Homo sapiens: one gene and its partner. The protein of the gene in region 2 purifies or fractionates together with the protein of the main gene of each other region. This does not show direct contact. Each region holds a gene or a part of one and is shown on either strand. Other genes may lie near its edges.

The links.
Region 1: the proteins of HK2 (region 2) and NUDCD3 fractionate together in Homo sapiens (co-fractionation; one large-scale study listed by BioGRID). This does not show direct contact.

What each region holds. Positions count from the first base shown.
Region 1 is NC_000007.14:44,403,375-44,407,189, reverse strand, and holds part of NUDCD3 (nudC domain-containing protein 3), read left to right. Parts: intron 1-2,606; coding exon 2,607-2,750; intron 2,751-3,815.
Region 2 is NC_000002.12:74,875,592-74,879,406, reverse strand, and holds part of HK2 (hexokinase-2), read right to left. Parts: intron 2,242-3,815; coding exon 2,086-2,241; intron 720-2,085; coding exon 486-719; intron 1-485. UniProt on the Homo sapiens protein: Catalyzes the phosphorylation of hexose, such as D-glucose and D-fructose, to hexose 6-phosphate (D-glucose 6-phosphate and D-fructose 6-phosphate, respectively).

The DNA of each region.
Region 1 (3,815 bases), on a different chromosome or scaffold from region 2:
TCGTCCCACCACCACCGACAGCTGAGTGGATTGACCAGTCAGCTTTGCTTTATAGGACATAGGGTCTTGGCATCCTAATGCTTGAGTGAGTAGGACTTCACTTGACACACAGGCATCCACACTAGGTCCTCAGACTGCTGGTCAGTGTCTTTGGAGCAAGGTCCTCCATTCTTCTGTAGCAAACAGAGGGATTCCTGTCCCTTTCAGTGGGGCGTCCAGGGCCACAGCAGTTCCCACATGTGCCCCTGGCCTTGCTCCTGCTCTGCATACCTGCCGACTCCCAACTGGAGCCTATGTAGCTGTGGCTTCTGGATGTCTCCTACCCTATAGGATTTGTCTCCTGTGCCCCTCCTCCTTTTGTCTTCTGCAGATTTGTTGACATCTCATCTGTTCCTGGCCTCCCTCTTCCCCCATTTTCACTGTCTGGGGTTTTTCTCTTCATGCCTATTATGCCTGCAGTTCACAAGAGGTCAGAGAGATGGCTGTCTGTTCCCAGTGTGACATCTTCACCTGGGACCTCTGGAAGCATTTCTTGTCTGGTTTTCTCCCTTGATGATTTGGTTCATTCCCCTGGGTAGGCAGTGTGAGAAGCTTCCCCAAATTTGGAAATTATTATGTTATATAGAGCTGGGTGGGAGAATTATATTTGTTAAGTGAGCTTGTTCTTGTGAAGGCAGGCTGAGGAGCCTTGGGCCCTCTGTGTCGTGTTTCCATTGCACACAAGTTCATGGTTAGACATGATTTGGCCCAACATGTGTCTGGATCATTTCAGGAGTGAGTGGATCTGTTGTTCCATTTGCTCACGTTCCTCATGGTGTTAGAAGGTAGGGAGTGAAGCTCAGTTGCCTATTGTTCAATAGGACTAGCCAAGTAAATACCCTTTTCCGTGGTAAATTCCCCTATGAAAGGTCATGCAAGTGGAACTGCGATCTCATGAGAGGATGCTTCCTTGGAGTCTGCATGTGAACCTGGCAGAGCCGCCTGTGGTTAGCAGAATATCTTCGCTGTGTCCCCCAGTGGGCAGCCTTCTGCCACCTTCTCCCCTCACTGCATGGCTCAGGAACTATCTTTCATTTAGTAACTATCTGATGGGCTGGATGTGGTGGCTCACATGTGTCATCCCAGCACTTTGGGAGGCTGAGGCAGTAGGATCACTTGGGGCCAAGAGTTCGAGACCAGCCTGGGCAACAGCAAGACCCCTGTCTCTACAAAAAATAAAAATAAAATTAGCCAGGCATGGTGGCACGTACCTGTAGTCCCAGTTACTCGGGAGGCTGAGGTGGAGGGATTGCTTCAGCCCAGGAGTTTGATGCAGCAGTGAGCTGGGATCACGCCACTGCACTCCAGCCTGGGCAATGCAGTGAGGCCGTGTCTCTTAAAGAAAAAGAAGAAAAACTGACAGCGGTGACTCCTGCACATCATTTCTCCCATTTCCATTTTTTATTTACGAATATTTAAACTACAGTTAGGTTATGGTATTGTATTTCATTGGAAATACTAAACTCCAGTTTGGAAAATCTATCAGTTTGGGTTGTCTTTTTTTCCAATCATTTTATAAGCGTTTAATGAGCCATCTACCAAATGACATGGAGAGTAGCTTCCAAATTATTTTTATTCCACATACCTATTAGAAAAAAGTTTTAAGTACTTGATCCCAGTGTCTTCTTAATGCATACATTATACAGATACAAAATGTAAATGGAAGTTCTGTTTTATTTCCTCTTCTAATTACTGACCTGTGAACCTCCTGGGGTATGCATACCCTGCTTTGGAGACTGCTGGCTGGAATACATGATATGAAGTAAAAGGAACCCTACTCCCACAGCTGCCAGTCCAGTTCTGGAGACGGACAAGTGGTGGGGCAGGGATAGGTGTTCCTAGGGCGGTGGGGAAGGCCATGGGGCCAGTCTCTGCCTAGGACAGGCTCAGAGGGAGGAGGGTGAGCTGAGGCTTTTAGAGGCTTGGTTTTGTAAAGAACCAAGACAAAATGCAAAACCATGTGCGAGTGTTGGTGGTATATTGGTGAGCATAGCTGCCTTCCAAAACCAAAGGAGTTGGTCTCATACTCTTGGATGAAGACCAGGCTATAGTCAACCAGGCAGTGCAGTGGCTCATGGAAGGAAGAGGTGGTGCTTGTCTCTTGTACAGCAGTCCTGGGGTGAGCAATTCAGGGTGTGCAGCCCCCTCAGCTTTCTTGGTTGCTGTGGTCCAGGGCTGGGCTCCTGCGTCTCCCAGGTAGCCACAAGGGGAGGCAAGGAAGAAATACCACTTGTCTCCTCTGCTCACTTTTTGCTGTGACAATTGGTCTCCGTTAACTGGAGAAGGGAGAAGAAGATTGGGTCACAGCAGCTTCCACCACAGCATTTTACGTTACCAGTTATGCTGAGAAAGATTTTCTGGTGGATTTACTAAATGAGCTGACATCTTCAGGTTGCTCTAGGTATAAATTAGGCTGGTATGGTTTTCTTCACTGAGATGCCTGGTGAGCCTGATGACAGCGCTGTAGTGTGCAGTCAGGTACCTTGGAAACCATCACCACTCCCACCGTACAGCACACCAGTGGTCACCCTGATAGGAGAGATGATTTTCTTCTGCTGTGTCCCCAGGTCTCAGTGGCCCTTAGCAGCAGCTCCATTCGTGTGGCCATGCTGGAGGAAAATGGGGAGCGCGTCCTCATGGAAGGGAAGCTCACCCACAAGATCAACACTGAGAGTTCTCTCTGGAGTCTCGAGCCCGGGAAGTGCGTTTTGGTAAGTTTGGGCACCTGTGTGTAGGGCTCCCAGGTGGACTTCAAACCTGCAGTGATGCCCCTTTTGACCAACAAGCCTATTTACACTTAAGCAGTGAGGTTGTTAATTTCAGCTGCTGGGGCAGATGGGTTTTCCTGAGCATTTTCCATACTGCTCAGAGATCGTCTCTGTGGGCACTTGAGCTTTGGCCCTTTGAGGTCTTGGTCATTCCCAAGAGCTCCACTGTTCTTACATCTAAGGCAAAAACAAGTAAATTGAAAATGAAAAGCTAGGTTGAATTTTTACAGATGCTACTCTGGAGGGTACAGAGTTAATAAATTCAGAGAATCAGGCTCATTGACCAACTGGCTGTCCTTAGCCAGCTGCTGGTTAGGCATAGCTAAGAGTTCAGGACAGTGAGATTAAGGTGTGACTCCAAATGAACAGCTCACATGTTACCAGTTAGCAGACTCGCTCACAAATTGGGCTGCACGCCTGGGCCAGATCTGTTGGTGGCTCAGCTCCTTCTCCCCTGTGAAAGCTTTGAACCTTGTCAGTGGTGGCTCTGTGCTGGTGCCCAAGTGGAGGTCACCTACAGATAAATTGAGGCACAACATGTTCTGAACTAACTTGTTTCCTTTTTTTCTCCTACTGGGGTGTTTACAGGGCATGGTAAAAGGAATAAAGGTGAAAAGAAAAATATAATGTCTGGACAAAAGTCTTTAGAATTTTATACAGATATATTCTTCATATGTGCAAAGTATGCAATAAAGGTATCTGTTTTGGTTTCTATAAGACATGCTTGGCAGGCTTCTGCCTGGGCTTCCCTGGCCAGTGCTGACTGGCAGGGACAAACTATCTCTCAGGCTCACAGTGACTCTGTCCTGGCTGTCCTCATGCTCGGAGGGACATGCAGGCCAGGTACCGAAAGGAGTGTATTCTGTCAGTGCTGCAGAAACCTGGACCAACCTTGACTCTGGTCTTGATATCAAACCTGGACAATGGAGCTCACTCTGGCTACACAGAGGTGGGGCCAACCTGGGCACAGACAACATGCTCCTTGGTGCTGCCGTGGCCTCAACTGCT
Region 2 (3,815 bases):
AGAGACATCTTCCAGGTCTCAGCTGACATGTGAATATTCTGGTACCTATGACCTGAGGGATCAAAATGTGGACAGGGCAGGATCAATTTAATACCAAGGTCAGCCAGAGAAGCTGGTAACCCTCACTGGGCTGGGGTGGTCCCTGGCAGAGGACATAGCACCTGCAGGAATCACCAAGAATTCTAAGAGTAAAGACAGGAACAATAACGCATACAAGAGGGTGGCAAAGAGAGTGTCCAGCAGCCAGAGGAGCTCTGCGGAGAGCCCGAGTCATCAGTAGCCTTCAGAAATCACCTCCACCCACACCAGATATGACTTCCTCCCATTCCCCCTTGCCCAGGTGGGAACTTTCATTCCACCAAGACCCTCAGCTCTATGGTCCCTCCACACCACCCCTGAAATGCAAAATGGAGCTGGCATGAGGAGTCACTCAGCCCCAGGTACTCCAGGAACTCCGCATCTCCAGGCCCTGCACACTGACTCACTGGGGGTGTTTCTTGTAGACGGAACCGTCGACCCCAATAGTAGAGCGCAGCCGCTCCTCGCCTTTGTTCTCCTTGATGCGCTGCAGCACGGCGGCCAGGGTGGCTGCGCACAGGCTGGCGGAGCGTGTGGACACGATCTGGCAGATCCGGTGAGTGGCCACGCAGTCCTCCTGAGTCGGGTCCAGGCCCAACCGCATCAGGACCTCACGGGCCTTCCGGATGCCATCCTTCTCCCTGGGAAACAGAAAGATAGCATGTGGGCCTGTGTCTGACCCACTGTGGCCAGTGTGTGTGTCGGGGGGTGGCAAGGAAGCCCTTTAGTTCCAGCAAATTCACCACCCAGTGGGGACAGAATCCCTCTTCATTGCTTAGTCCACCTGTGCAGGGGCAGGAGGAGGAGGAAGGGGGTGCAAAATATAGCACAGCCACCCTGAGGCTCCTCTCCCAGACACCACACACACACGCACACGCATGTGCGTGCGCACACACACACACACACACACACACAGAGACACACGGAGTTGAGAAACACAAGTATTTCTTATGCATGTGCTATGTAAAAACAAGGCCCTGTTCTTGGTGCTTTACCACCAAGTTGTGTGTGTGAGAGTTTGTGTTACATCTGCTTGTGTTAGGGGAGACAGACAGTGTCTCTGCTGTCAGCCACTCTCAACATGTGAACCCTGCGGTGATGCCCACCTGGTTTCTCTCTCTAAAGCAGTAGGAGTCTATTGCATTTCACCATGGACTTGGCACTGCTTTAGCTTGTGTCTAAAGATGGTTGGTAAGGGGCTAGTGCTATAACCTTAGCACCCTTCTCAAGGGAACTAAATCTTGCATCACCTTGGGGTACTTGCATCACCTTGGGGTATAGCAACAAGTAGGCCCCATTCCTTCAAGAGTTTCCCCTTAAAACAAAGTCATTGGCACTGTTCCACTGCTCCATTTGGCTCCAAAGACACCTCCTCTCCACCATCTGGTCCCTGAAACACCAGGACTTCTTCAATCTACAAGTGGAAATCTCAAGAACAGTAAACGAGGCCCGCCTGACTCTTGGGATATTGTTAACAACAACAAAAATCAAGCCATCCTCACTCTTGCCCCTGCTGGGCTGTGAAAATGCAGGCCCCAGCTCTGCTTATTAGAATTAATTGGGTAGCTATATCTCTGGCCAATTCAAAGACCTAGCTTTCTATTATGAAGCAGGGGTCATGACAGAGTCCTTTTTGAGAATTGCCAATAGGGAATCAGATGTCAGAGCTTCAGGAGAAGGAAAAGGAGGCAGATGCAGCTAAGTCTTTCGGGGGCCCTCTGGGGTCCTCCAGCTTTAAACCCAGTGCAACAGCCCAAGTCCCTGCATATGGAGGCCAACCACCGTTCCCAGTACCATGAGTCACTGGTAGCAATCACAATCGAAATCGACAAGAGTGGAGACTGGTAAGTGAAGTGAAGCCACAGGCCCGCCATGGTCCACGTCATGTGAGACCCTCTTGCAGTCTATACTTGAAGAGTCAAAAGGTACAGCCCCCTCCTCATTCCCCAACTACCCGTCAACTCGTGTGGTGATCCAGCAAATAGAGGGGGCTGGCCAGAAGCTCACCCTTCAATGTCTGAGATGTCTTTGGTCTCAAAGCGACCGGTGTTGAGAAGCTCTGGGCTGAGCTTCCCCCCAAAGAGCAGCTCCTCCTTGGCCATCTTCACCAGGATAAGCCTCACCAGCTCCCCCATGTACATCCCACTGATCATCTTCTCAAACCTGCCGGAAGACACAAACCAAAAACATAAAGTCCCCACTGCCCATGTACTCATAGCTTCCCTGTTGAAGCAAGATGCGCACACGTGCAACTTCACAACTAAGGGTTAATGTGTGCAGCACGGCCCAGGAGTAAGATACGTGGAGAGGTGACGGCTCAGAGGGGCTGGCTTGGGTTGTCCCTGCAGGCTGATGGGCCTTGACCTATGGAGAAGAATAAATGAAACTTAAGCAGCCAAATGAAACACACAGGGAGTATGGAACATTCTGGAACAGCCTGTATTTTAGGTAAAGTTATGCGTAGGGTGGTAATCTTTAAAATTCTTCTCTAGCCAGGAAATCATTTTTAAAATTAATATCTTACATAGCCCAATATTTATTTACAAGAGAAAAAAGGCGATCTGATTAGATATGTAGCACAGGCCTAGAAACTCATCAGCTCATACTGTCCACCCCTGCAAGCCGTTCATGGGCTCCAGAGAAAATGGTGTGAAAACCACCTGGGGCAGGGGATGATGGGGCAACATTATAAAGGCAGGTTGGGATAGAGGAATCTGCACTGGGCTCCGAGCTCTAAATGACAGGTCTCAGGGGTCTGGGAGTGAAACAGGCTTCTAAGCAGGCAGGTGACAAGATGTTTTAGAAAGGCAGGGGACGGCCCCCAAACCAGCAGTGCGGTCCGGTGATTTAATTTTAACACTAGGTGGCACTGTTTTCTTTCATAATTGGTCTTTCTGACTAGAACTGAGAGGAAACCAAGCCCTGGTGATAATTCTTTTTGACAAAAGGCCCATTTCTGGGTGTTTGAGAAAGAACCTGTGTCTTAGAGGAGGCACATGGGCCTGCTGCCACTAACTAGGATGAGCCCCAGCGAGGAGGAGGCCCAGGACTGAGATGTGGAAGGGATTCCAAGGTTACCTTTCCGAGAGGAAACCCAGGCCTCCAGGAAGCAGCCTGCTCAAGACCCAAGGCCGAGTACAGCAGCATCAGGGCTAACTGAGAGCTGGCAAAATTGTGAAGATGACAGCGCGCATTTTAAATGTTAGTGCACCCACACAGGCAGAGCTTCAGGAGAAGGAAACCAGCGTGGATGGGAGCCTGGCTTCAACAGTAAGGAACTCCGTGTTGCTAAGTTTTTATTCTAGTTTTTAAAAACACTTTGTTCCAGTCAACATTTGGAAGATACTTACTTGGAAATATATTAGAGGGGACAAAAATTGTCTGTAGTGACTTCAGGGCTACCATGGATGACAATTTGGTGGGTGTCAAAGGATAAGCCGGGGGTGTGCTGTCATGGTCTGGCTGGCAAATTTGTCTTTTGACATTTGAAAGGGCCTTTAGTTCCTCGGAATGACTTGGGTGTGCCTCATTCATGGAGGCAGGCACTGAGTGACTTTTCAGCTCATAAACCTCTCATCAGCCATGGCAGACACAACCAGTATGATCCTCAGAAATTTCAAGTAAAGGACTCATTTCAACATGTGAAACAAGCTTGTGACTTAGATAAATAAACCATGCTTTGACAAAGCAAGGACTCTCAGGCCGGGCGCGGTGGCTCACGCCTGTAATCCCAGCAC